Linked DNA regions of Homo sapiens. The protein of the gene in region 1 interacts with the protein of each later gene in a pairwise test. Each region holds a gene or a part of one and is shown in the gene's direction. Other genes may lie near its edges.

Region 1 (3,716 bases):
TTAGTTAATTTCAGCTGGGTGGTAGTCTATAGTCCCAGCTACTCGAGAGGCTGAGGCAGAAGGATCGCTTGAGCCCAGGAGTTCAGGGCTGCAGTGAGCTGTGATCACACCACTGCACTCCAGCCTGGGGGAAGAGCAAGACCCTACAAACAAAAAAGAGTTAATTCCATTATATTTATTTTTACATACCCAGAGTTTGACTAAAATATACCAGACAATCTCCTGTCCCCAAATCCATGTCCAAGCAAGGGGAGCCACGTTTTCTAAGCTCACAGTTTAAAGGTTAAAGAGACACACTGAGGAAAACTCAGGGAAAGAAGCTGATTTGCATGGACACTAGGCCTGTCGTTGATTCCCTCATTTCAAAAGTTGCATGTGCCATGGGAGGCGGAGTCTCTGAGGACATCCTGGCTGTGCCTCGGCGGCTCTGGACTCCAGCTCTACGCAGAGCGCCTTAACACTGTACTGGAAGAAATGGGAAATCGCATTGAGGACTTACAGAAGAATGTCAAGGACTTAATGGTGCAAGCTGGCATTGAAAATTCTATTAAAGAACAAATGGTAAGGTTATTAGCAAACTATGTCAACCGTTTTCGTATGTTTTGACTGCTTTCATCTTGAAACATACAATCCCATATTTGTTCACTATGGGAATTGCTGCCTCTGTGCTGCATGAAAACTGCTCAGGAATAATAAATTTCCAAATGCTCTCTTCTTTTTTTGAGGTGGAGTCTTGCTCTGTCGCCCAGGCTGGAGTGCAGTGGCATGATCTTGGCTCACTGCAAACTCCACCTCCCGGGTTTAAGCCATTCTCCTGCCTCAGCCTCCCAGGTAGCTGGAACTACAGACATGCACCACCACACCCAGCTAATTTTTGTATTTTAGTACAGACGGGGTTTCACTATGTTGGCCAGGCTGGTCTCCAACTCACAACCTCAGGTGATCCACCCACCTTGGCCTCCCAGTGCTGCAATTACAGGCGTGAGCCACCACGCCCGGCCACACCCAGCTAGTTTTTGTATTTTTAGTAGAGACGGAGTTTCACCTTATTGGCCAGGCTGGTCTCGAACTCCTGACCTCAGGTGATCCACCCGCCTCGGCCTCCCAAAGTGCCTCCTCTGCAGGGCATCTGAGGCCACCCAGTGCAACCCGAACCTCATCAGGGCACTGTAGGCATTCTCACAGCTTCTGATGCTGAATGTAAACATGCCACAAAAGAATGCTAGGATCAGAGGCATGTTTAAAGCCATTAGTAAAAATAACAGAAAAAATGATTCAGAAGCCAGGCGCGGTGGCTCAGCCTGTAATCCCAGCACTTTGGGAGGCCGAGGTGGGCGGATCACGAGGTCAGGAGATCGAGACCATCCTGTGAATGGTGAAAGCCCGTCTCTACTAAAAATACAAAAAAAAAAAAAAAATAGCCGGGTGTGGTGGCGGGCGCCTGTGGTCCCAGCTACTTGGGAGGCTGAGGCGGGAGAATGCCGTGAACCCGGGAGGCAGAGCTTGCAGTGAGCCGAGACTGTGCCACGGCACTCCAGCCTGGGCGACAGAGCGAGACAACATGAAAGAAAAGAAAGGAAAGAAAGAAAGAAAGAAAGAAAGAGGAGAGAGAGGAGAGAGAGGAGAGGAGAGAGAGAGAGGGAGGGAGGGAGGGAGGGAGGGAGGGAGGGAGGGAGAGAGAGAGAGAAAGGAAAGAAAGAAAGAAAGAAAAAGAAAGAAAGAAAGAAAGAAAGAAAGAAAGAAAGAAAGAAAGAAAGAAAGAAAGAAAGAAAAAAAAACGATGCAGAATAGCGCCCACGTTGAGCAGGTCCTCCCACCTGTGCCCACGCGGATGCTTCCCCAGGGATCCTCTGAACCTCCAGGTCAGAAAGCTGGTGAGCCGTGAATTCACCCTGCATTTTAATTTTTGGGTGTGGTCTGTTCAGGTAGGCAGAGATGGCAGTGCTCTGATTCTGCTGGTGGACTGAAGTCCTCATCCCTTCTCTGCGTGCGCTCAGAGCAGAGGCAGTCTTCCCCCAGACACCTAACCAAGTTTCCTGCAGACACACTGGCATCATAACCTTCAGACGTTTATTCTGAAAGTCTTAAAGCAGTATGTCAGTGGCCCCATACTCTGTAGCCTTCTGCCCCTTGCTTTTTTGTTCAGTACTGAGATTCATGTCGACACGTGTCGCTCTAGGTCAGTCGCCAACTGCTGCCTGATAGTCCTCTGATGATTTACTTTATATTTGACTAATATTGTTTCCAAACAATGCTGCACTATTCTTGTCTACTTCTTTGTGTACACGTTGCCAGTTTCTCTAGGGGACTTGGTTATTCTGTACCTAGGGGCTTGTCACCTGCATTAGCTGCCACAAGTAATTTCTGGACTTTGCCTAGAAGCCATCCTGGGGAGATGGGAAATAGAATTCACTAGGTACCCAGAGAGCCACTAGTATATCCAACTTGATTAAAGCACCACAGTGCCACAGACGAGGCAAGGCTTGGCAGCCATGCAGGCCTAGGTTTCAAATTCTTATCCTCTGTTGCTGGCTGTAACCTGGGGAAATCTAAGCTTTAGTTTTCTTCTCTGCCAAATATCTACCTGGTAAGTGGTTGTAAGGATTTAAGAAAATTGCTTGCAAAGCACTTAAGTCAGGGCAAGGTAGACAGCAGGTACATAATGAGATAAACTTGAAATACAGAGTCCAAATCATTATGATTTCAACTGTACTGCAGCCACAAAGCACCAGTGAGAACGTTATTAAAATCAGGGGTGAACATACTTAATACACCTGATAGGAGTTACGGCCTGAACGTTTATGTCTCCCTAAATAGCTGAAGACCTAACTGCAGCATGTCTGTATTTGGAGATGGGGCCTCTACAGAAGTCATTAAGGTTACATCGGTCCTGAGGGTGGGGCCCTCATCCAACAGGATTCGTCTTTCTGAGAAGAGACGCAAGGGGCTCGCCTGCTCTCCCCTCCGTGCCTGCACCAGAGAAGGAGGCCATCGGCAAGCCAAGGAGAGCCCTCCCCAGAAATCACACGGACCAGCACCTTGATCTGGGACTTCCAGAAAACAGAACTGTGAAAAGACAAGTTTCTGTTGTTTAAACCACCCAATCTGAAGTATTTTGTTATGGCAGTCCTGGGCAGACTAATACAATATGCAACACATTTACAATAAATATACAATAAACTTACAAATGTGGAATGTAATTATTTTATCTTTTTCTGGTAACGCCAGTAAAGCTGTTATCCTAAGAGACATAATTCACACATCATCCACCAATTATGCAATTGACAGAATTGTACCATTATCACAATCTTAGGGCACTTTTTCTGTTTATGCCTGCTCGGCTTATGTAAGCACATTTTCATTACATCAAAAATAAAACTGCCCATTAGCTGTCACCTCCTATTTCCCCCTCCCTCCCAGTCTTAAGCAACCACTAATCCGTCTCTATGGATGTGCCTATTCTAGAAATTCCGTATAAATGGAATCACACAATATGTAGTAACTGGCTTTTCACTTACAGTACTTCATTCTGTTTATGACTGAATAATATTCCGTTCTATGGATGGACATTTTGTTTAACCGTTCATCTGTTGATGGACACGTGGGTTTCCACATTTTGGCTTCTGTGTACGAGTTTCTATGTGGACATATGCGTTCAATTCTCCTGGGTATGAAACTGCTGGGTCAAATGGTAACACCATGTTTATCTTTTTTTA
Region 2 (7,036 bases), on another chromosome or scaffold:
TTCCTACTTGCACCTCCATACCAGGCTCCCTGGCCTTGGGGCAGAAGCTTCTGAAGACTGGGGTGGAGCACCATGTGGAGGGGCCATCGAGGAACAGAGGAGCCAGAGTTCAAGTGAGGACAGCGATGGCACTGCAGGGCCACAGCCTGGTTTACCTGCCAAGTTTCCAGTTGTGCTTCTGGTGGGTGTCCGGCCCGGGTTGGAGTTTGAAGATGAGCAGGAAAGGTCTCCATCCAGGTGGCTGCAGATGGCTGCTCACCCAGCCCCTACTGAGAGGCCACGGTCCCAGTTCTGGTTCTCTGTCCTGTATCCAGGAGTGGCAGGGTAGCGAGGCTCTAGCTTCCAGGTTGGGGATGGAGACAGTGGGGACAGTGCCATGCCCCGAGCCTGTGCTGTTGGGCAGCTGGTATCCTGCTCCCAGCCAGAGAGTGTACATCTTCGTGTAGTGGATTTTCCTAACAACCAGGGGACATGAGGGCAGGTTGTTTTCCCTGTTTTACAGGTGGCAAAATGAGATTCAGGAGCAATGTCTCCAGCATTTTTGTCCTCACCTTCTGAATAATAGCAGCCATATTTGGGCCTCTGAAGGGCTAGAGTTCTCTGAGGAGCTGCTTCTCTGATCTCTGTCCTGCACTTGGCCTCTGGGAGCTCCTATGGGTCCTCAGCAGAGTCCACAGGGCTCTTCGGAGTCCCCTCCCTGTGCCACAGCCTGGAGCCTGTCCTTAGGTGGTAAGCTGAGGCCGCCACTGCGCTCACCTCATGGGCTTGGGGGGAAAGTGAGTCACCCAGGAAATAGACAATGAGCTCTTTATTGTCTTTGGAGTCTGCTGGAGCCAGGGAGGACAGATGAACCCCATGTGAATCCTGCTTCCTGGAGCCCACAGTGTGGTGGGTGAGGTGACACCAGGAATCATATAACTAATAGGAGGTAGCATGAGGGAGGCCTGATATCTCACCACCATTGCCTCCCCCTCCTCCAGAGAGGCCGTGTTGGTGCAAGGCTATAGGATGTGGTATTGTTGGCGTGGAGGATGGTGTTTGGTTAGAGTCACCATTGAGAGTCATAGAGGGAAGCGAAGCTCCCCTTGAAGGGCTTTTTTTTTTTGGCTGGACCTGAGAATTAAATTGACATAAGACAGGTACACAGGAGAAAAGCACGTACGACTTCTTTTTTCTTGAGATGGAGTATTGTTCTGTCACCCAGGCTGGAGTGCAGTGGTGCAATCTCGGCTCACTGCAACCTCCGCCTCCCAGATTCAAGCGATTCTCCTGCTTCAGCCTCCTGAGTACCTTGGGATTACAGGTGCCCACCCTTGCGCCTGGCTAATTTTTGTATTTTTAGTAGAGACGGGGTTTTGTCATGTTGTCCAGGCTGGTCTCGAAGTCGAGCTCAGGTGATCCGCCCATCTCAGCCTTCCAAAATGCTGGGATTACAGGTGTGTGCCACCATGCCCAGCCAACACACACATTTATTTAATGCAAGTTTTACCTAGCACAGAGAAGCAGTGAGAGTCAGTTACTTATATATTGAATTGGACCAAGTAACTTGTGAAGAAGCTAGTAAATATATGGAGGCTAAAAAGCTGAGTGGTTCTGTTCTAACAAGGTCTGCACAGTAATCTCTTGGCCTCGACTTCTCATCCTTAAAAATAAGGAGATCGTCCTATGTTTCCCTGGGGACTTTCATCTCCTGCTTTTAGGAAACACAAAAGAGGTCAAAGCATCTTATTGCGCCTGCTGTTTTTCAGTAGCCTTTAACTGATAATAGTCAATGGGCCAGGGTGGGTGGGCAGGTGCGATGGCTCACATGTATAGTCCTGCCCAGGTGGGTGCATCCTTAGAGCCCAGGAGTTCAAGACCGGCCTGGGAAACATAGCAAAATGCTGTCTCAAAACCAAAAACCAAAATAAAACCAAAAACCACAGACACAGACACACACACACACACAGAAAATCATGTCGTGTGAAGGAATACAAGCAGAATGCATACCATGTGATTCCTCATCTTATTAAAATACAACTAATCTATTGTGATAAAAAGCAGAAGAAGCATTGCTGGGGACATAGGAGCAAAGCAGAAGAGAGGATTACATTGAAAAATGAAGAAACACTGCAGGACGGTAGACATGTCATTATCTTATCGCGGCGATAGTTCCACAGTGTATACGTACATCTCAACCTACCAAACTACATGCTTCAAAAATGTACACTTTGTTTCATATCCATTATACCACAATAAATCTATTTTAAAAAAACCTTCAATAGAATATAAGCACTTGAGTGTATACTGTATTCCCTATAGCACTTGCACATAGATCATGGAAATAGGTATGCATAAAAAGTCAGTACCCAGTTAAAGTGGAATTCTAAAAGGTAATTAACATTAAAATGTGCAGGGGAAAAAGGAGTAAAAAAATTAGACTAGACAACCGTAGTTTAAATGGTAAACGTATAGGTCTATTTTGACTAACAATTATTGCACTCCCTGTAAATCCACTGAGCACTACAGTTCAATGGTAGAAATGTTTGGAAGGGCTGAAAAAACAAGACTCAGCTATATCTTGTCTATATGAGATGGGCCTTAAAAGGAAGACACAGATGCTGTCTGTGGAAAGCAAATAGATGGAAAAAGATACCCCACGCAGAGTGTAAGGCCAAGAAAACTGCCGTGGCTATCTCAGTATCACATGAAGTTGATTTTGTTAGCGGTGGACGAGATCCGAGTTACCCTACGTTGAAGGCGGCGAATCCGTATGGGTCCACAGCACCTTCAGCTCTTCGCCTCCTGAGAAGAAAGAATTGGACTGAGGGGCATAAGGCAGAAGGAGAGACAGAGGCAAGTTTCAGAGCAGGAGTGAAAGTTTATTAAAAAAGCTTTAGAACAGGAAGGAAAGGAAGGAACGGAAAGAAAAGAAGGAAAGTACAACTTGAAAGATGGCCGAGCAGGTGACTTGAGAAACAGTGCACAGCCGGACTGCCTGAGTTGGGGTTTTATAGGTTGGCCTACTTCCAGGATCTTGCCTTACTTCTCCCCACTCCTGAAATCTTATTGGGAAGCTGCTGATCAGTTTCAGGTGTTTTCTATGTATTAGGAGACTGCCTTTTTCTGGCATTGGCTGTAACCAGTTCTTACTTTAGAGACACGGTTATCAACCACCTGATGGTCGCCCAACACTGCTGGTGTCAGAAGCGGGGAGCCCTCTCCTACCCTGCTCATACCTGACTAGCTGCCTACTGTAACAATTTTAGGACATAGAATATTATGGGAGCTCAAAAGGGACCCTTGTAGTTAAAAAGGTTAATTCTTCAAGGAGTATAATAATAATCACAAATTGTATATGCCTAGTAATACAGCTGCAGAACACATGATGCAAAAAGAGAATGAAAAGGAGATTAAATCAGCTGTTTCTCTGTAATTGACAGAACGGTCAGATGAAAACCCCGGTAAAGTGGCAAGCGATCTGCACACTATCAACCACCTTGACTTAACTGACATTTAAAGAGCAGGAGTGGAACATCCACTGAACACTGATTCCTTTCTATGCTCATGATACTTTCACCAAGATAGACTGGGTTCTGGGATATAAAACACGCGATATGACCTCTAAACTTAATGAAACGAGACTGGAAGTCAGTAATAGTATCCATAGGGAATTCTAAAATTTGGTTATTGAACAATACACTTCTAAAAAATCTGTGGTTCAGAGAAGAAATCAAAAGGGAAGGTAAAATGTTTCAAAATAAATAATAATAATATAACAGCAAAACTGGTGGGAAATGGCTAACAGTGCTCGGAGTGAAATAATACAGCTTTCAATGTGTCTATTAAAAAAATTGGGGAGATGGGGAGTTACTCCTGAAGGGTATGCAGTTCCTTTCTGGAGTGATAAAAACATTCTAAGATTGATTATAGTGATGATTGCATAGCTATGAGTATATTAAAAAACTACTGAAATGTAGACTAAATGGGTGAATTATATGAATAATCATAATTACTAATTATGTGATTTGTGTCTCGTTAAAGCTGTCAAAAAAAGAAAAATATGTGAAATTTATGGCCTGAAGATCTACATTAATCAATCATAAAATATAAGCATAAATTTAAACCAAAGTAACAAGGAGGAACATAAATCAAGGAAATAGAATAGAAACCACAAAAAGAACTGACAAAACGGACTGTGTGTGGTGGCTTACGCCTGTAATCCTAGTACTTTGGGAGGCTCAGGCAGGCAGAACGCTTGAGCTCAGGAGTTAGACCAGCCTGGGCAACGTGATGAAACCCCAGCTGTATAAAATACACCAATATTAGCCCAGGCATTGGGGCACTCTCCTGTCTGTGGTCCCGGCCACTTAGGGACTGAGGTTGGAGGACCACTTGAGCCCGGGAGGCAGAGATTGTAGTGAGCAGAGATTACACCACTGCACTCCAACCTGGATGACAGAGGGAGATCCCGTCTCCAAAAAAGAAAAAAAAAAAAAAAGAGTTGAGAAAATGAATAGTTGCTCTTGAAAAGGAGTAAGGGTGTGAGAGCAGAGAAAGGTGACAGAGACATCGCCTGAACCTAGAGGGACCCCAGCTCTAGAAGGGAGGATTTGGGAAATGTGCATTAGCTTCACTGTCACCAACTACTAGGCAGGCTTTCATGTGGAAGAAAGCTACATTTTGTCTTGCTGAGAGCCAGGTAGTTGAACAGAGCCCAAGGTAAGTAGCTTTTATTGTAACCATTTTGTTTTTTCTCAGGAGCAAGATTATATTAAATTTAATTAAATGTAAATTTACAATTAAATTAATTTTGTACTTTTACACACTCCCAACTTAAAAGTTACAAAAACTATGCAAAAAAAATTTGAAAAATAGCTGTTGGCATGATGAAAGCTATTATTGAATTTTTCAGTGTGTACTTTCTACAAACAAGGAAATTAACATCAACACATTACCACTATCTAATATGCAGACTCTATTCCGATTCTCCAGTTGTCTTCTCGTCGTCATTTATAACACAGAGATCATGGCCATAATCCCTGAATTGCTGTTTTATCTTTTTCTGTCACTCTTTGATATTTAGTGGGAACAGCTTGTCAAGGTCCTTTGTGAAGCAGAAATTACTTAATGTTTGATGCTATATCCTGACTTTCTTTAAGGTTATATTGTAACCCTCATTTGTAAAAATGTGTATTTTTATGTGTGTGTCTGTGTGTGTGCGAGAGAGAGAGAGAGAGAGAGAATATTCACCCACTGGTCAATTAAACACTTGGTCAAACTAAATACATTAGATGCTATTTCTGCTTGAAGGGCTCATATGTGTGGTTTTTTTGTTTTTTGTTTTTTGTTTTTTTTTTTGAGACAGAGTCTCGCTCTTTCGCCCAGGCTGGAGTGCAGTGCAAGCTCCGCCTCCTGGGTTCACGCCGTTCTCCTGCCTCAGCCTCCCAAGTAGCTGGGGTTACAGGTGCCCGCCACCATGCCCAGCTAATTTTTTGTATTTTTAGTAGAGACGGGGTTTCACTGTGTTAACCAGGATGGTCTCAATCTCCTGACCTCATGATCCACCCACTTTGGCCTCCCAAAGTGCTGTGATTACAGGCCTGAGCCACCGCGCCTGGCCTTTTGTGTTCTTATAAAATCTTTTCTTGCCAACTACAGTGGTGTGTTCCTGTTACCCAACTTGCTTGGGAGACTGAGGCGGGAGGATCACTTGAGGCCAGAAGTTCCAGGCTGTAGTAGACTATGATCACACCTGTGAATAGACACTGCATTCTAGCCTGGGCAACATAGCAAGACTCTATCAAAAAAAAAAAAAAACTCTTCTGCTCATATTTTCTGGGGTAAATATATTTTATGTTATAATATGATAAAAGGATACGGAGGTGTTTTTCTTTATAGAAAATAGCTACCTAACAGGCCAGGGGACAAACACGGATGCAAAAGAATGAAAGTTTGGAATGGGAAAAAAGTCCAGGCTCTCATGGGTTTTGTCACTTGGGGTGAAGGGAATGTGAGACGGAGCCTGGGAGAGGTAAGGTCTGGAAGCCACTCAAGCCCATCTCTGCCTTGTCCCCACAGGTCCGGGTTGACTCTGCCACCATCCCCCGGCAGGACGAAGTTCCCCAGCAGACAGTGGCCCCACAGCAACAGAGGCGCAGCCTCAAGGAGGAGGAGTGTCCAGCAGGTGCACTCTTATTTTTAAAAATCAGTTTATTTTTAGTTGACAGATAAACATTGTATATATTCATGGTGTACACCATGATGTTTGGAAATATGCACGCATTGTGAAATGGCTAAATCAAGCTAATTCACATACTTATCGTGTATTTGTTGTAAGAACACTTAAAAGTCTACTCAGCAATTTTCAGCTGTATGGATACAGAGCCCTGGGATAAGCCCTCTTTGCCCTCCTCACCTGTGGGTTCTGTAGCCATCCTCATCTGTGGGTGTTGCATCCGTGGTTGCAACCAACACAGATCAAAAATATGTGGAAAAAATAATGAAAATGATAACATGTCAATAAAAGTAGATAAAAAGCAATGCAGTAAAGCACTTATTTACATAGCATGTCTATTGCATTAGGTATTACAAGTAACCTAGAAATGATTTAAAGCATATGTACCTGGGGTGTATGCAATACTATCCCAATTTGTATCAGGGACTTGTGTAAGTGCAGAGTTTGTTCCATGGAATATATTCCCTGTGAATAGAAGGCAGGACTGTACAACACATTGTTTTAATAACTGTAGTCACCATGTCACACAATACATCTCTTGAATTTATTTCCCCCTGTCTAACTGAAATTTTGTATCCTTTGACCAGCATCTCTCCAACCCACCGTGCAAATACAGCGCTGGTAATCACCATTCTACTCTCTACCTCTATGAGATCAAGTTTTAAGATTCCACATATGTGAGATCATGAGGTGTTTGTCTCTCTGTGCCTGGCTTATTTCACTTAGCATGATATCTCCAGGTTCATCCATGCTGTCACAAATGACAGAATTTCCTTCTTTGTTGAGGCTGAATAGTATTCCATTGTGTCTATGTACTAC
Region 3 (7,036 bases), on another chromosome or scaffold:
GAGCCTGAGACTGATCTGGCTTTAGGTGCTCGAAACCTTTCTTTGATCACAGGGCCATTAACTCCGCCTTTGGGCCTCCTCCTTCTCCTGAAATCCCCCTTTAAAAGTTCACTTGGTAATTTCTATCAATATCTATTTGATTTTATGATCTATGAACTCTTAGGACATATTGCCAGAATGGTACTTTGGTCCTTCAGAAAAAAATTTATTCTTTTTTTTTGAGATGGAATTTCGTTCTTGTTGCCCAGGCTAGAGTGCAATGGCGCGATCTCAGCTTACTGCAACCTCTACCTCCCAGGTTCATGCGATTCTCCTGCCTCAGCCTCCTGAGTAGCTGGGATTACAAGCATGCGCCACCACACCCGGCTGATTTTGTATTTTTAGTAGAGAGGGGGTTTCTCCATGTTGGTCAGGCTGGTCTTGAACTCCAGACCTCCGGTGATCTGCCAACCTTGGCCTCCCAAAGTACTGGGATTACAGGCATGAGCCCCCGTGCCCAGCCTAGAAATTTATTCTATTATTGGTAGATTTCTTAATGTTTTTTAATAAGCTGCCATCTTGTTGTGATCAAGTTCAAAAAATATATTTTTTAAAACCATATGAATTAATTAGGTGCGCCTCTTGTTCCCACCTAATTGGGGGAAAAGGAGATTATACCAATCATTGTTTTAAAGCCGTCAGGAGTCCCAGTTAACCTGTGTGACTTTAGCAGGAGCCACCAAGGTAACTGCAGATGGCACAAGTCAGACACCATCAGAATTCTGCTCTCCCAGTGTTTGGGATAATTGTGGTAGAGACCATGAATTAGAAACACACATAGGCAACACCCACTTACTTATTGGTGGCAGGAGAAGACCTAGAAACATTGTAGAGATGTTTCTGCTTCCTCCCAAGGGCCAGCAGTTTACACCCGGGGGCCACATCACACCAGATTGATTTCAGTGTATGTGGTGGGGCCTTCACTGTTTACATTAGTAATTTGATCCTTCCATTAAGACCCCTGCACCTATTCTTTAGGTAAGAATTGAAGCAGGTCTGATTTCCGACAGTTACACTGCTGTCCCAGAGGAAAACTCAGTGGCAGTATGTTGTTGTTCAGTGTTATATAAGCATGGCAGGTACGTATGTCCGCAGATGTATACTAAACATATACGTACATATATGTTTCCAATTTTCTTCCTAGATCTTGGCCCTGATTGCATTCATCTGCATAGAGACCATCATGGCATGCTCCCCGTGTGAAGGCCTCTACTTTTTTGAGTTTGTGAGCTGCAGTGCGTTTGTGGTGACTGGCGTCTTGCTGATTATGTTCAGTCTCAACCTGCACATGAGGATCCCCCAGATCAACTGGAATCTGACAGTGAGTACAAGCGGCCACTCTGGCCATGAAAGGATCACGTGCCTGTTGGCTCCAAGGAAAAGCTGGAATCTCTCCAGGTCATGTTTGGTTCTAGTTCATTTTGATCCTTAAATATTCTATTATAATTCAACTGTGAAATTTTAAATTTCTTTACTGGGTTAAGTAAAACTACAAAATAAACTGAATCTTAACTAATGGGAGAAACATCATAACAATTATTTTGGCCACCTTAAAGATGTCATTTCAATTTTGCAATCATCTGAGAAGACTGGTCATGTTGATATTTGGAGAATATGGGAAATAAAATACAGTGTAGACATTTACATACTTTTCAGACTGGACCTAAAAGCCATTTATAAAAATATTGATTCTGGAAGAATTGAAAATATGAATGAAAATGCCAGTAACTTACAGAGCCTAGGAATATTATTAAATTCAAAGCAACTAGGAGGACCTGGGGGGGTTTGGTGGTTTGATCAGAAAGTCTTGAGTGGAAACCTGCCCCTTCTCCCCATGGTTTGGGTTCTTAGCTCTGTTTGGCCACCCTTGTTAATCAGATGGGAAGCACAGGGCTGGTCAGTCCTAGACCCCCTTTCCTAGACTGTGTCCTTACTGTGCTGAATGAGAAGAGGATTTTAATATCATTTGGTTTTCTTGATATTTATTTACAAATTAGCATGTGCAAGAGCTCAAAGGGAGTCAGTCAGGGAGATCCACGTAAGCACAGTCGGCTGCCTCACACTGCTGTGCCTGTGGGATGAGAACGCCGTGGGCACCTCAGCTGCTGAGGGGGAAGCAGGAGGAGAGCGCCTCAGACCAGCTACCCTTGCCTGAGATTGGGAGCCACACAGAAGCCACACGTGGCTCTGTCTGTGTTTGGCTGCTGCTGGGCCCATGAGAAAGTGTGGGCCCCAAGGAGGAGGCTGGAGCTGCCACCTCCCTGTCAGGGCTGCTCTCCTGGTGTGCCCTGGGTGGGGAAGGTCCTCCTTACAGGTGCTCTCTGGGTTGTCCTAACCAGCACAGACTCCTAAAGGAGGAAAAAAGGAGAGTTGCTGATCTAGAAAAGTAGATATCAGTTGAAAACTTAGCTGTTTTTTGTCTTAGCACTGGAAGCTGAGAAAAATGTGGTGGTATTTTAAATTTAAGCTCTAAAACCTCAAGATAACTAGAAGCATTTTGTCTGAGTTTTTGTGACAGGTTGTAATGTCTCAACTATTTTTAAAATGAGGTTTATGTTATCCATAAGAAAATGCTTACAGAGCATGTAGTAGACTGTTTAAGAGAACTTTGCAAACCTCCCCCAGTTAAAATGCTCATACTATGGATGCAGGGTCAAGGTCAAGGTCAGCATCTTGTTCATTGCTATCCTACTTGCCTAGTGTTCCTGAGGCCTGTCAATAAATACTTGTTGAGTAAGGGGCTGGGCTGTGAAACCCTGCGGGAGGACCTGTTTGACAAAGAAGCAGCTGCTGGAAAGGTTAAGACTATAGGCATTGAGTCAGACAGACCGAGCTGGGTTCAAGTCCAAGGTAGCTGCTGAAACAGGCTGTGCATGACCCTGGGCTAGTCACTGAGAGCCCTACATTGGTGAAGTGTCAGCACTGGTAAAGTGGAGATAATAATTTTTTTTTTTGCAGGGTTTTTTTTTAAGTATAAAATGAGGTAATGGGTGTAAAGGCATCTGGTAAGGCCTCAAACCAGTGGGCGCTGTGGCCAGTGCAGCAATGTTCATCTCACCTGAGTAAGAGGTGTCCTGGCACGCTGCTGTTATGTTACCCACACTGTTCCCCTGTTTACTTCCACCAGGTTTGACTTGACCCCCTTAATTCTGTTTTGTCCATTTATCTGACAGCCATTAACCTGTTAAAAGACTTCATGCTTCAGATTTCTTACTAATTTATACCAGCGTTTATCCCCAGAAATACCTACTTTTTGTTGTTTTTGGGTTTTTTTTTTTGTTTTTTTGAGACAGAGTCTTGCTCTGTTGCCCAGGCTGGAGTGCAGTGGCGTGATCTCGGCTCAATGAAACCTCCGCCTCCCGGGTTCAAGCGATTCTCCTGCCTCACCCTCCCTAGTAGCTGAGATTATGGGCATGTACCACCATGCCCAGCTAATTTTTGTATTTTTAGTAGAGATGGGGTTTCACCATCTTGGCCAGGCTGGTTTCAAACACCTGACCTCAGGTGATCCACCCACCTCAGCCTCCCAAAGTGCTGGGATTACAGGTGTGAGCCACCACACCCAGCCCAGAAATACCTATTTAGTGAGCTTTCTGGAATTCTGCTTTTTCTATTTTAATCATGAAAGATTTTCCACTTGTTGACTACCACACTACCATGTCACCGGTCATGTTGAGGTGCATCTCTCCCCAGGGAAGTTGATACTCGTTCTTTTCCTCTGGGTGGTGGTGGCCTGGGCCTGTGGTTGGGTGTTGGTGATGTGGTCACTTGAGAACACGATCCTGTTCTTTGGGATCCGTTCTAGACTTTCCACTCTTTTGGAGCAGATAAAGGCTGTGTGTTTGCCCAACAAAAGGGCATATACCTTACATGAACTTGAGGAGATGGTACCTTTTTTTTTTTTTTTTGAGATGGGGTCTTGCTCTGTCGCCCAGGCTGGAGTGCAGTGGTGCGATCTCGGCTCACTGCAACCTTTGCCTCCCGGGTTCAAGTGATTTTCCTGTCTCAGCCTCCTGAGTAGCTGGGATTACAGGCATGTGCCACCGTGCCCAGCTAATTTTTGTATTTTTAATAGAGACGAGGTTTCGCCACGTTGGCCAGACTGTTCTCCAACTCCTGATCTTAGGTGATCTGCCCACCTCAGCCTCCCAAAGTGCTGAGGTTACAGGCGTGAGCCACTGCACCCTGCCAAGATGGTATCTATTAAAGGCAGCTCATGTCCAGTGTTCTCTGAGAGGGGTGAAAAAGTGAGCTCCTCACGGCCGATCTCAGCTCATCAACTCGCTACAGAAGGGTTGGCCTTGGCTGTGTTGTGTTTCTGTAACAAGGTGGTGGGAGTATTGGGAGTATTTTTGTCTCCAGCAGAGCCAGCCTGATGGTTAAAATAGGGTGTGATTGGTATAGATTTAAAAACACAGGTCATTCCAGGAGCCCAGGTTGACATAAATATGGATGAGAAATGATAAATAAGGAGGACAGTGCATAATTTTCTACAAGCATAATTTGATGGAATTTGAATGATTCTGTTAATGTCAAGTTTTTGGTTTGGGTTTATTTTTGGATGGATTGTGGGACTTTGATATATATATATATTTATATATATATATTTATATATATATATATTTATATATATATATTTTGAAACGGAGTTTCGCTCTTGTTGCCCAGGCTGGAATGCAGTGGCACAATCTTGGCTCAACGCAACCTCCACCTCCCAGGTTCAAACGATTCTCCTGCCTCAGCCTCCCGAGTAGCTGGGATTACAGGCATGTGCCACCACACCCGGCTAATTTTTTTGTATTTTTAGTAGAGAGGGGGTTTCTCCATGTTGGTCAGACTGGTCTTGGACTCCCAACCTCAGGTGACCTGCCCGCCTCAGCCTCCCAAAGTGCTGGGATTACAGGCGTGACCCACCGTGCCTGGCGATATTTGTTTTTCTCTGTGTCCTAGGAGCTCATACACTCACATGTTCCACCCCTGTTTACTTTGATTAGTGCCACGGGGCTCCTCCTTTCCTCCCCTTCCCTTCTGGGATGTGGCGCTATCTAAAAGGCGTGTCTGATCCTCCCCCATCCCAAAAGCCTGCCAGTGGCTCCCACTCAACTGGCCCCAGAGCCCAGGGCCAGCTCAGCCCCACTTCCCAGAAGAGGAGGTCTGCACTTGCCTTCTCTACTTCCCCCTCTCCTAATCTCACTTTTCTAATCTCTTATTGTCAAATTCTGAAAAAATTATGAAAGTAAATATGGAGTTTAATATACAGCCACCACCTGGGTCAATAAATAGGAGATTGTCAACACCCCAAAAGCTTCCCATGTGTATTTTCCAGCTAAACACACCCCCTGCCCCTTCCCCCAGTCCACCATCCTGACTATGTGGTGGTCTTCCGCAATTCATCTTCAGCCCACTCCAGTCTGGCAGCATTGAAAGTCCCCTGGTCAGGAGCCTGGGACGGGGCCTCCGTGTTCCTAGATCCTCTGGTTGCTCTTGGGTTCTCACCCCACTCAACATCCTGGTGGTGTCTGCTATGGGGCACTCTGTCCTTCCTGCCATACTCTCTCACCTTGCATCCTGGGCCCCCACACTGTCCTGTTTTTCTTCTTCCGCTTTGGTCACCCTTTCTTAGTGGGCTCTGTGGCCCTGGAGGCCTCTTAGGCCTCTATCTCAGAACCCAGGCTGGGTGCTGTGGTGGGTTGAGAACAGTTGGCAGTTACCCACAGGGGCCACTGGCTGAGCCCTGAGCCCTAGGGCGTGACTCGTCTTGTGTTTTTTTATTTTATTTTATTTTATTTTATTTTTTTATTGATCATTCTTGGGTGTTTCTCGCAGAGGGGGATTTGGCAGGGTCATAGGACAATAGTGGAGGGAAGGTCAGCAGATACACAAGTGAACAAAGGTCTCTGGTTTTCCTACGCAGAGGACCCTGTGGCCTTCCGCAGTGTTTGTGTCCCTGGGTACTTGAGATTAGGGAGTGGTGATGACTCTTAAGGAGCATGTTGCCTTCAAGCATCTGTTTAACAAAGCACATCTTGCACCGCCCTTAATCCATTTAACCCTGAGTGGACACAGCACATGTTTCAGAGAGCACAGGGTTGGGGGTAAGGTCATAGATCAACAGGATCCCAAGGCAGAAGAATTTTTCTTAGTACAGAACAAAATGAAAAGTCTCCCAAGTCTACTTCTTTCTACACAGACACAGCAACCATCCGATTTCTCAGTCTTTTCCCCACCTTTCCCCCTTTTCTATTCCACAACACTGCCATTGTCATCATGGCCCGTTCTCAATGAGCTGTTGGGTACACCTCCCTGACGGGGTGGTGGCCGGGCAGAGGGGCTCCTCACTTCCCAGTAGGGGCGGCCGGGCAGAGGCGCCCCTCACCTCCCGGACGGGGCGGCTGGCCGGGCGGGGGCTGACCCCCCACCTCCCTCCCGGACCGGGCGGCTGGCCGGGCGGGGGGCTGACCCCCCACCTCCCTCCTGGACGGGGCGGCTGGCCGGGCGGGGGGCTGACCCCCCACCTCCCTCCCGGACAGGGCGGCTGGCCGGGCGGGGGCTGACCCCCACCTCCCTCCCGGACGGGGTGGCTGCCGGGCAGAGACGCTCCTCACTTCCCAGATGGGGTGGCTGCTGGGTGGAGGGGCTCCTCACTTCTCAGATGGGGTGGCCGCCGGGCGGAGGGGCTCCTCACTTCTCAGATGGGGCGGCCGCCGGGCGGAGGGTCTCCTCACTTCTCAGACGGGGCAGCTGGGCAGAGACGCTCCTCACCTCCCAGATGGGGTCGCGGCCAGGCAGAGGCGCTCCTCACATCCCAGACGGGGCGGCGGGGCAGAGGCGCTCCCCACATCTCAGACGATGGGCGGCCGGGCAGAGACGCTCCTCACTTCCTAGATGGGATGGCGGCCGGGCAGAGATGCTCCTCACTTTCCAGACTGGGCAGCCAGGCAGAGGGGCTCCTCACATCCCAGACGATGGGCGGCCGGGCAGAGGCTGCAATCTCAGC
Region 4 (7,036 bases), on another chromosome or scaffold:
AGAGTTGCTGGCGGCTTTATTTTATGGTTCTATCATAATTTACTTAACCAATCTCATGTATTAGCTATTTTGGCTGTTTCTATTATAGTTTATGTTCTTATTATCAAATTAGACAAATTTATGTCTAATTTGCATGACTAATTTGTGCCATGGACATTCGCTGCCTGGGTACTGGAGACTTGTGGTTAAGTCTCTGCATGTCTGCAACTTTGTGCCGCCATCTATTCTACCTTGAAAGTTTAACAGGGTGTGTGGATTCTTCTTGAAATCTTCCCACTTTTCTCATATTGCTTTTTCCAATTTTAATTGAGTAAGAAACAGTTTTGGAGAAGGTGGGACACTATCCTATATGTGTGTGTGTGTGTGTGTGTGTGTGTGTGTGTGTGTGTGTATATTTTTTTTTTTTCTTTTTTTTGGAGATGGAGTTTCGCTCTTGTTGCCCAGGCTGGAGTACAGTGGCGTGATCTCGGCTCACCGCAACCTCCACCTCCCGGATTCAAGCGATTCTCCTGCCTCAGCCTCCCAAGTAGCTAGGATTACAGGCATGTGCCATCATGCCCGGCTAATTTTGTATTTTTAGTAGAGATGGGGTTTCTCTGTGTTAGTCAGGCTGGTCTCGAACCCCTGACCTCAGGTGATCCACCCACCTTGGCCTCCCAAAGTGCTGGGATTACAGGCGTGAGCCACTGCGCCTGGCCAACACTATCCTGTATTAAGCACCAGGTTTGTGGTCAGTCCTTGGATCTGGTTGCTAATTTTTTTTGTCTCTTGTTCAAAATCCTGGTTTATAAAATTTGTTGCATGTGTGCTTAATAAACTAGCACTAAGTGTTGAAGTGGAAATCTCTTTTTTTTTTTTTTTTTTTTTGAGACGGAGTCTCGCCCTTGTCACCCAGCCTGGAGTGCAATGGCGTGATCTCGGCTCACTGCAACCTCCGTCTCCCGGGTTCAAGCAATTCTCCTGCCTCAGCCTCCCAAGTAGCTGGAATTACAGACACTCGACACCATGCCCGGCTAATTAGTAGAGATGGCGTTTCTCCACGTTGGCTGGGCTGGTCTCGAACTCCCGACCTCAGGTGATCCGCCCACCTTGGCCTCCCAAAGTGCTGGGATTACAGGCGTGAGCCACTGCGCCCAGCCTGAAGTGGAAATCTCTAAGGAAAATTCTTACAAGGATATCGCTTGAGTTCCTTCAGTTTTGACTAGTGAGTTTTTGACAGAAAAGGTTCATCTGTTATGTAGGGAATAAGAAAGGGACACTTGTAAATGACTATATGATATAATCAAACGGAATTGTCATCTGAGCACTAATTCGGTAAGTAGCTGACCTTATTAAGATAGCCTGATTCTGGCCCGGTACGGTGGGTCATGCCTGTAATCCCAGCACTTTAAGAGGCCAAGGCAGGCGGATCATGAGGTCAGGAGTTCGAGACCAGCCTGGCCAACATAGTGAAACCTTGTCTCTACTAAAAATACAAAAATTAGCCAGGCATGGCGGCACGCATGTGTAGTCCCAGCTACTCGGGAGGCTGAGGCAGGAGAATCACTGGAACCTGGGAGACAGAGGTTGCAGTGAGTGGAGACCATGCCATTGCACCCCAGCCTAGGTGACAGAATGAGATTCCATCTCAAAAAAAAAAAAAAAAAAAAAAGCCTGATTCTAAGAGAACACTTTTTTTTTTTTTTTTTTTTGAGACGGGGTCTCTCTATCCCCCCAGCTGGAGTGCAGTGGCAAGATCTCAGCTCACTGCATCCTCTGCCTCCCAGGTTCAAGTGATTCTCCTGCCTCAGCCTCCCTAGTAGCTGGGATTACAGGCAGGCGCCACCACGCTTGGCTAATTTTTGTATTTTTAGTAGAGACGGGGTTTCACCATGTTGGCCAGGCTGATCTCGAACTCCTGACCTCAAGTGATCCGCCCGCCTCAGCCTTCTAAAGTGCTAGGATTACAGGCGTGAGCCACTGTGCCCGGCCGTGAAGCCACCTTTTCACTCAGCCCCACCTGCACAAGCTGCAGCTCCAGGCTTTTTACTTGGGAGAATGCGATGCCATTGGCTGTGCTGCCCATGGCAGAATCTGGGAATGACCCTGGAGTCTTCCCTTCTCTGACACCCGTGTCCCAGGACACGAATCCTGGGGGTTCTCTGACTGCCCTGTAGCTGACCTGCAGACCCCACAGCTGTGTATACCTTGATGGTGGCTGCCCTTTGACTGCTTCCCCTGCAGTCCAGCCCTGCCCCTATCCAGGTCCCCTCTCTGCAGAGCTGGGACGGCATTTCCAAATTGTAGGGCCCATTATCTTGTTTCTCTGCTTAAAATCTTTCAGTGGGTTATTTCATCTTTTCTGGCACTTTCTTTATCAGGCTTTTCCTATCCAGTTTTATAACAGCACCCCCACCCCAACACACACACACCCCACCCACCAGCCACAACAGGCCTACAGCTGCACAGTCCTGGGCCCAGGCCAGCCACGCTGCCAATGCCAGCCTGCCACTTGCCTTTATCAGTATGCAGCATCTTGGGTGCCCCCTCTTCCCCAGCACTTCTTGAGACTCGGTTCAGGGGTTCAGGTGACCCCAGCAACAGGCGCCTGCCTGGCCCTGCTGCGTGCACACAGCTGTGACCAAGGTTTGCCCTCACAGGCTATGCCAAACTGCGACCTGTGTCTCCCCGTTCCTCCCCAGACTGCGCTCTAAGGATGGCACTTGGACCCATGTCTTAGCGGGGTGCTCAGTGTCCATCATCCAATTTGGTGATAAAGTGGAGTATTCCTTTCTCCCGAAGGGTTCTATGCAAAAATCTTCAGACATAACACCAGTGCTCACATTTTCTCATGGTTTGTTTTCTCTCCAGAAAATGAATTGTGACTTGTCCCGGTCTCTCTTATCTAGTGGTAAGCATCCGTGGCATTCAAGACGAAGATCCCCCTGACGCCCAGCTCCTGAGGCTGGATAACATGCTGCTGGCTGAGGGCGTGTGCAGGCCCGAGAAGAGAGGAAGAGGAGGAGCGGTGGCCAGGGCCGGCACAGCAACACCAGGTGGCTGTCCAAATGACAATAGCATTGAGCACTCTGACTACAGGGCCAAGCTGTCCCAGATCCGACAGATTTACCACTCTGAGCTAGAGAAATATGAACAGGTGATCTTTCTGCATGGAAGAGTTTCTGTCATGTGAATGCGCATTTGTCAAAGCGAAACACGGAACGCTAACCACCTTTCTTTCGTGGCGCAGAACAGGGAGTCCATGCAGTTGGTCGCTGCAGAGGTGGTCCATTGTTACTGAAAGCCCTTTCCATTTACTTAACAGTCACCCGCCGGTGTGTGAACTACAGGGGGTGGCAGGCGGCTGCTCCGCTGTGGAACCTGCTGCCCTGTGCCACCCTGCTGCCTAGTCACAGGCCGGCGTGTCTGTGCTCCCACCCCAGGCCTGTCGTGAGTTCACCACGCACGTCACCAACCTCCTCCAGGAGCAGAGCAGGATGAGGCCTGTCTCCCCTAAGGAGATTGAGCGCATGGTCGGCGCCATTCACGGCAAGTTCAGCGCCATCCAGATGCAGTTGAAGCAGAGCACCTGTGAGGCAGTGATGACCCTGCGTTCGCGGCTGCTCGATGCCAGGTCAGGGCCTGTACGTACCCAAAACCTCAAGGGCCGGCTCTGAGGGACTGGAGGGAAATAGTGCTGGCTTGGGTTGAAGACAGCCCTGGAGGCTGTGTCTGCAGTCACGGTTGGAGGCCTCACAGCCTCTTGGGAAGAAGGCCTGAAGTATTGCTGTTTTCATTTTTATTTTATTTTGTATTTATTTATTTATTTATTTGAGACGGAGTCTCACTCTGGTGCCCAGGCTGGAGTGCAGTGGTGCGATCTCCACTCACCACAACCTCCGCCTCCCAGGTTCAAGCGATTCTACTGCTTCAGCCTCCCGAGTAGCTGGGATTACAGGCTCCCGCCACCATGCCCAGCTAATTTTTGTGTTTTTAGTAGAAACGGGGTTTCACTATGTTGACCACGCTGGTCTCGAACTCCTGACCTCAAGTGATTGCTGTTTTCAGAACTACTGGAAAATCATACTCAGAACTAGAGGTGGGGGTGGTACTGGAGTCCCAGCATATTAATGCCTACGAAGGCGGCTGTTTTTGCAGGCGCAAGCGGCGGAATTTCAGCAAGCAGGCGACGGAAGTGCTGAATGAGTATTTTTACTCCCATCTGAACAACCCTTACCCCAGCGAAGAAGCCAAAGAAGAGCTGGCCAGGAAGGGCGGCCTCACCATCTCCCAGGTGACGTTCTCTCCTGCCACGTCTCGCCACGCCTGGGAGGAGTGGATGACTAGGTCCCATGAGGACACCCAGGGAAGTTTGTTAAATGTGTGCAGAGGCCAGGCATGGCTGCTGGAATCCCAGCACTTTGGGAGGATGAGGTAGGAGGGTCGCTTGAGGCCAGGAGTTCGAGACCAGCCTGGGCAACATAGTGAGACACTGTCTCTACAAAAAATTTAAAAAATTAGCTGGGCTTGGTGGTGTGCACCTGTGGTCTCAGCTCCTTCGGATGCTGAGGTGGAAGGATCACTTGAGCCCAGGAGGGTGAGGCTGCAGTGAGCTATGATGGCGCCACTGCATTCCAGCCTGGGTGACAGAGTGAGATCCTATCTCTGAAAAACAAAAAAAGTGTGGAACAGGAGCCAAGTCTCCAGGCTCTGAGTCAGCCAGGCCAGCTCAGATCCAGGCTCTGCATTACAAATGTGGGACTCCAGCGCTCTCCCCGTTCATCTGTGAGGCAGGGGTGCAAGTGTACCCACAGAGAGACCTGAGGACTTCCTGAGCGATGCAGATGGAATGCGAGGTCCCAGAGGTGATGCTGTGGAGTGTGAGCTCCCTGAGGGACACAGACGGAGTGTGAGCTCCCTGAGGGTTACAGACAGAGTGTGAACTCCCTGAGGGATACAGACAGAGTATGAGCTCCCTGAGGGATACAGATGGAGTGTGAGCTCCCTGAGGGATACAGACAGAGTGTGAGCTCCCTGAGGGTTACAGACAGAGTATGAGCTCCCTGAGGGATACAGACGGAGTGTGAGCTTCCTGAGGGATACAGATGGAGTGTGAGCTCCTTGAGGGATACAGATGGAGTGTGAGTTCCCTGAGGGATACAGATGGAGTGTGAGCTCCTTGAGGGATACAGATGGAGTGTGAGTTCCCTGAGGGATACAGATGGAGTGTGAGCTCCTTGAGGGATACAGATGGAGTGTGAGTTCCCTGAGGTGACTGAGGTGGAGTGTGAGCTCCCTGAGGGATACAGATGGAGTGTGAGCTCCCTGAGGGATACAGATGGAGTGTGAGCTCCCTGAGGGATACTGATAGAGTGTGAGCTCCCTGAGGGATACAGATGGAGTGTGAGCTCCCTGAGGGATACTGATAGAGTGTGAGCTCCCTGAGGGATACAGATGGAGTGTGAGCTCCCTGAGGGTTACAGATGGAGTGTGAGCTCCCTGAGGGATACAGATGGAGTGTGAGCTCCCTGAGGGATACTGGTAGAGTGTGAGCTCCCTGAGGGATACAGATGGAGTGTGAGCTCCCTGAGGGTTACAGATGGAGTGTGAGCTCCCTGAGGGATACAGATGGAGTGTGAGCTCCCTGAGGGTTACAGATAGAGTGTGAGCTCCCTGAGGGATACTGATGGAATGTGAGCTCCCTGAGGGATAAAGATGGAGTGTGAGTTCCCTGAGGTGATTGAGGTGGAGTGTGAGCTCCCTGAGGGACAGAGATGGAGTGTGAGCTCCCTGAGAGATACAGATGGAGTGTGAGCTGCCTGAGGGATACAGGTGGGGTGTGAGCTCCCTGAGGGATACAGATGGAGTGTGAGCTCCCTGAGGTGATTGAGATGGAGTGTGAGTTCCCTGGGGGATGCTGTGGAGTGTGAGCCCCCTGAGGTGACGTGGTAGAGAGTGTGAGCTCCCTGACTCTATAGCCTGGTAGGCAGCCACCAGTGTCCTCTGTGGAACTGGGGGTGAAAGAGGGAGACACTAAGACCAAGAGGCTAAGAAATATTTCCGAAGGTTTTAACATGGAAACAGTAAGTCCAGGCAGCCTATGGCAGCAAGCCAGGTCCAGGCCATACCCCCGTGGCAGCATGAGTGTGTGGAACAGGGCCTGGGTGCCGCCCTCCCACCTGGGCAGGCACAGCCCCACAGCCTCTATGGCAGCAGGAATGGCAGGTGCTGACCCACAGCATGGCTTGCTGCATGTCACCACAGCCCTCCCTACTTTGCAGTTGGAGGGGCTGAGTTTCTAGTCCTTCACCACCATGCTCTGCTCCAACCCAGGCTAAGTCCAGTCAAGTCTCTGTGACAGAGAGCAATTGGAACCCCTCGGGGTCACGCAGGCAGCAAAACATCCTGAGGTCATAGTCACATATGACTTTGCTCATCGGGATCTGCTGTGGTGTCAGAAACAAGGCCAGAGCTGGAGCAAGGGGCTGCGCCTCTGGGTCTTCAAGGCCCCTGGAGAAGCGTGAGACATTTGGCCCCCAAGGAACAATTGTCTGGAGGACAACCAGGGCTGCTTCAACCAGGATGGAGCCTCTGGGGCCTCCCATGTGGATCAAGAGAAGGCTGCTCACACCCCCGGGGTAGGCAGACACTATGTTTGGAACAGAGAGCACACAGACAGGGATCCTTCTTTTTATACTTAACATTGCAAGGATAATGTAAGTACACCAAATGTTGGCCAGGCATGGTGGCTCATGCCTGAAATCCCAGCACTTTGGAGGCCAAGGCGGACGAATCACCTGAGGTCAGGAGTTCGAGACCAGCCTGGCCAACATGGTGAAACCCCGTGGCTACTGGAAATACAAAAATTAGCCAGGCTTGGTGGCACATGCCTGCAATCCCGCTACTGGGGAGGCTGAGGCAGGAGAATCATTTGAACCAGGGAGGCGGAGGTTGCAGTGAGTTGAGGTCGCACCACTGCACTCCACACTCCAGCCTGGGTGACAGAGTGAGACTCCGTCTCCGAAAAAAAAAAAAAAAAAAAGTACAAAAATTAGCC

The links.
Region 2: the proteins of HSBP1L1 (region 1) and TNFRSF10D interact in binary tests that used the Homo sapiens proteins (3 or more experiments, as listed by UniProt).
Region 3: the proteins of HSBP1L1 (region 1) and CMTM4 interact in binary tests that used the Homo sapiens proteins (3 or more experiments, as listed by UniProt).
Region 4: the proteins of HSBP1L1 (region 1) and PBX4 interact in binary tests that used the Homo sapiens proteins (3 or more experiments, as listed by UniProt).

Annotation. Positions count from the first base shown.
Region 1 is NC_000018.10:79,967,623-79,971,338, forward strand, and holds the end of HSBP1L1 (heat shock factor-binding protein 1-like protein 1), read left to right. Parts: intron 1-466; coding exon 467-561; intron 562-2,817; coding exon 2,818-2,829; 3' UTR 2,830-3,200; downstream 3,201-3,716.
Region 2 is NC_000008.11:23,154,004-23,161,039, reverse strand, and holds part of TNFRSF10D (tumor necrosis factor receptor superfamily member 10D precursor), read left to right. Parts: intron 1-6,060; coding exon 6,061-6,166; intron 6,167-7,036. UniProt on the Homo sapiens protein: Receptor for the cytotoxic ligand TRAIL. Contains a truncated death domain and hence is not capable of inducing apoptosis but protects against TRAIL-mediated apoptosis. Reports are contradictory with regards to its ability to induce the NF-kappa-B pathway.
Region 3 is NC_000016.10:66,630,729-66,637,764, reverse strand, and holds part of CMTM4 (CKLF-like MARVEL transmembrane domain-containing protein 4), read left to right. Parts: intron 1-1,183; coding exon 1,184-1,360; intron 1,361-7,036. UniProt on the Homo sapiens protein: Acts as a backup for CMTM6 to regulate plasma membrane expression of PD-L1/CD274, an immune inhibitory ligand critical for immune tolerance to self and antitumor immunity. May protect PD-L1/CD274 from being polyubiquitinated and targeted for degradation.
Region 4 is NC_000019.10:19,566,686-19,573,721, reverse strand, and holds part of PBX4 (pre-B-cell leukemia transcription factor 4), read left to right. Parts: intron 1-2,850; exon of another isoform or gene 2,851-2,888; coding exon 2,889-3,136; intron 3,137-3,304; exon of another isoform or gene 3,305-3,422; coding exon 3,423-3,613; coding exon of another isoform or gene 3,614-3,623; intron 3,624-4,137; coding exon 4,138-4,273; intron 4,274-7,036.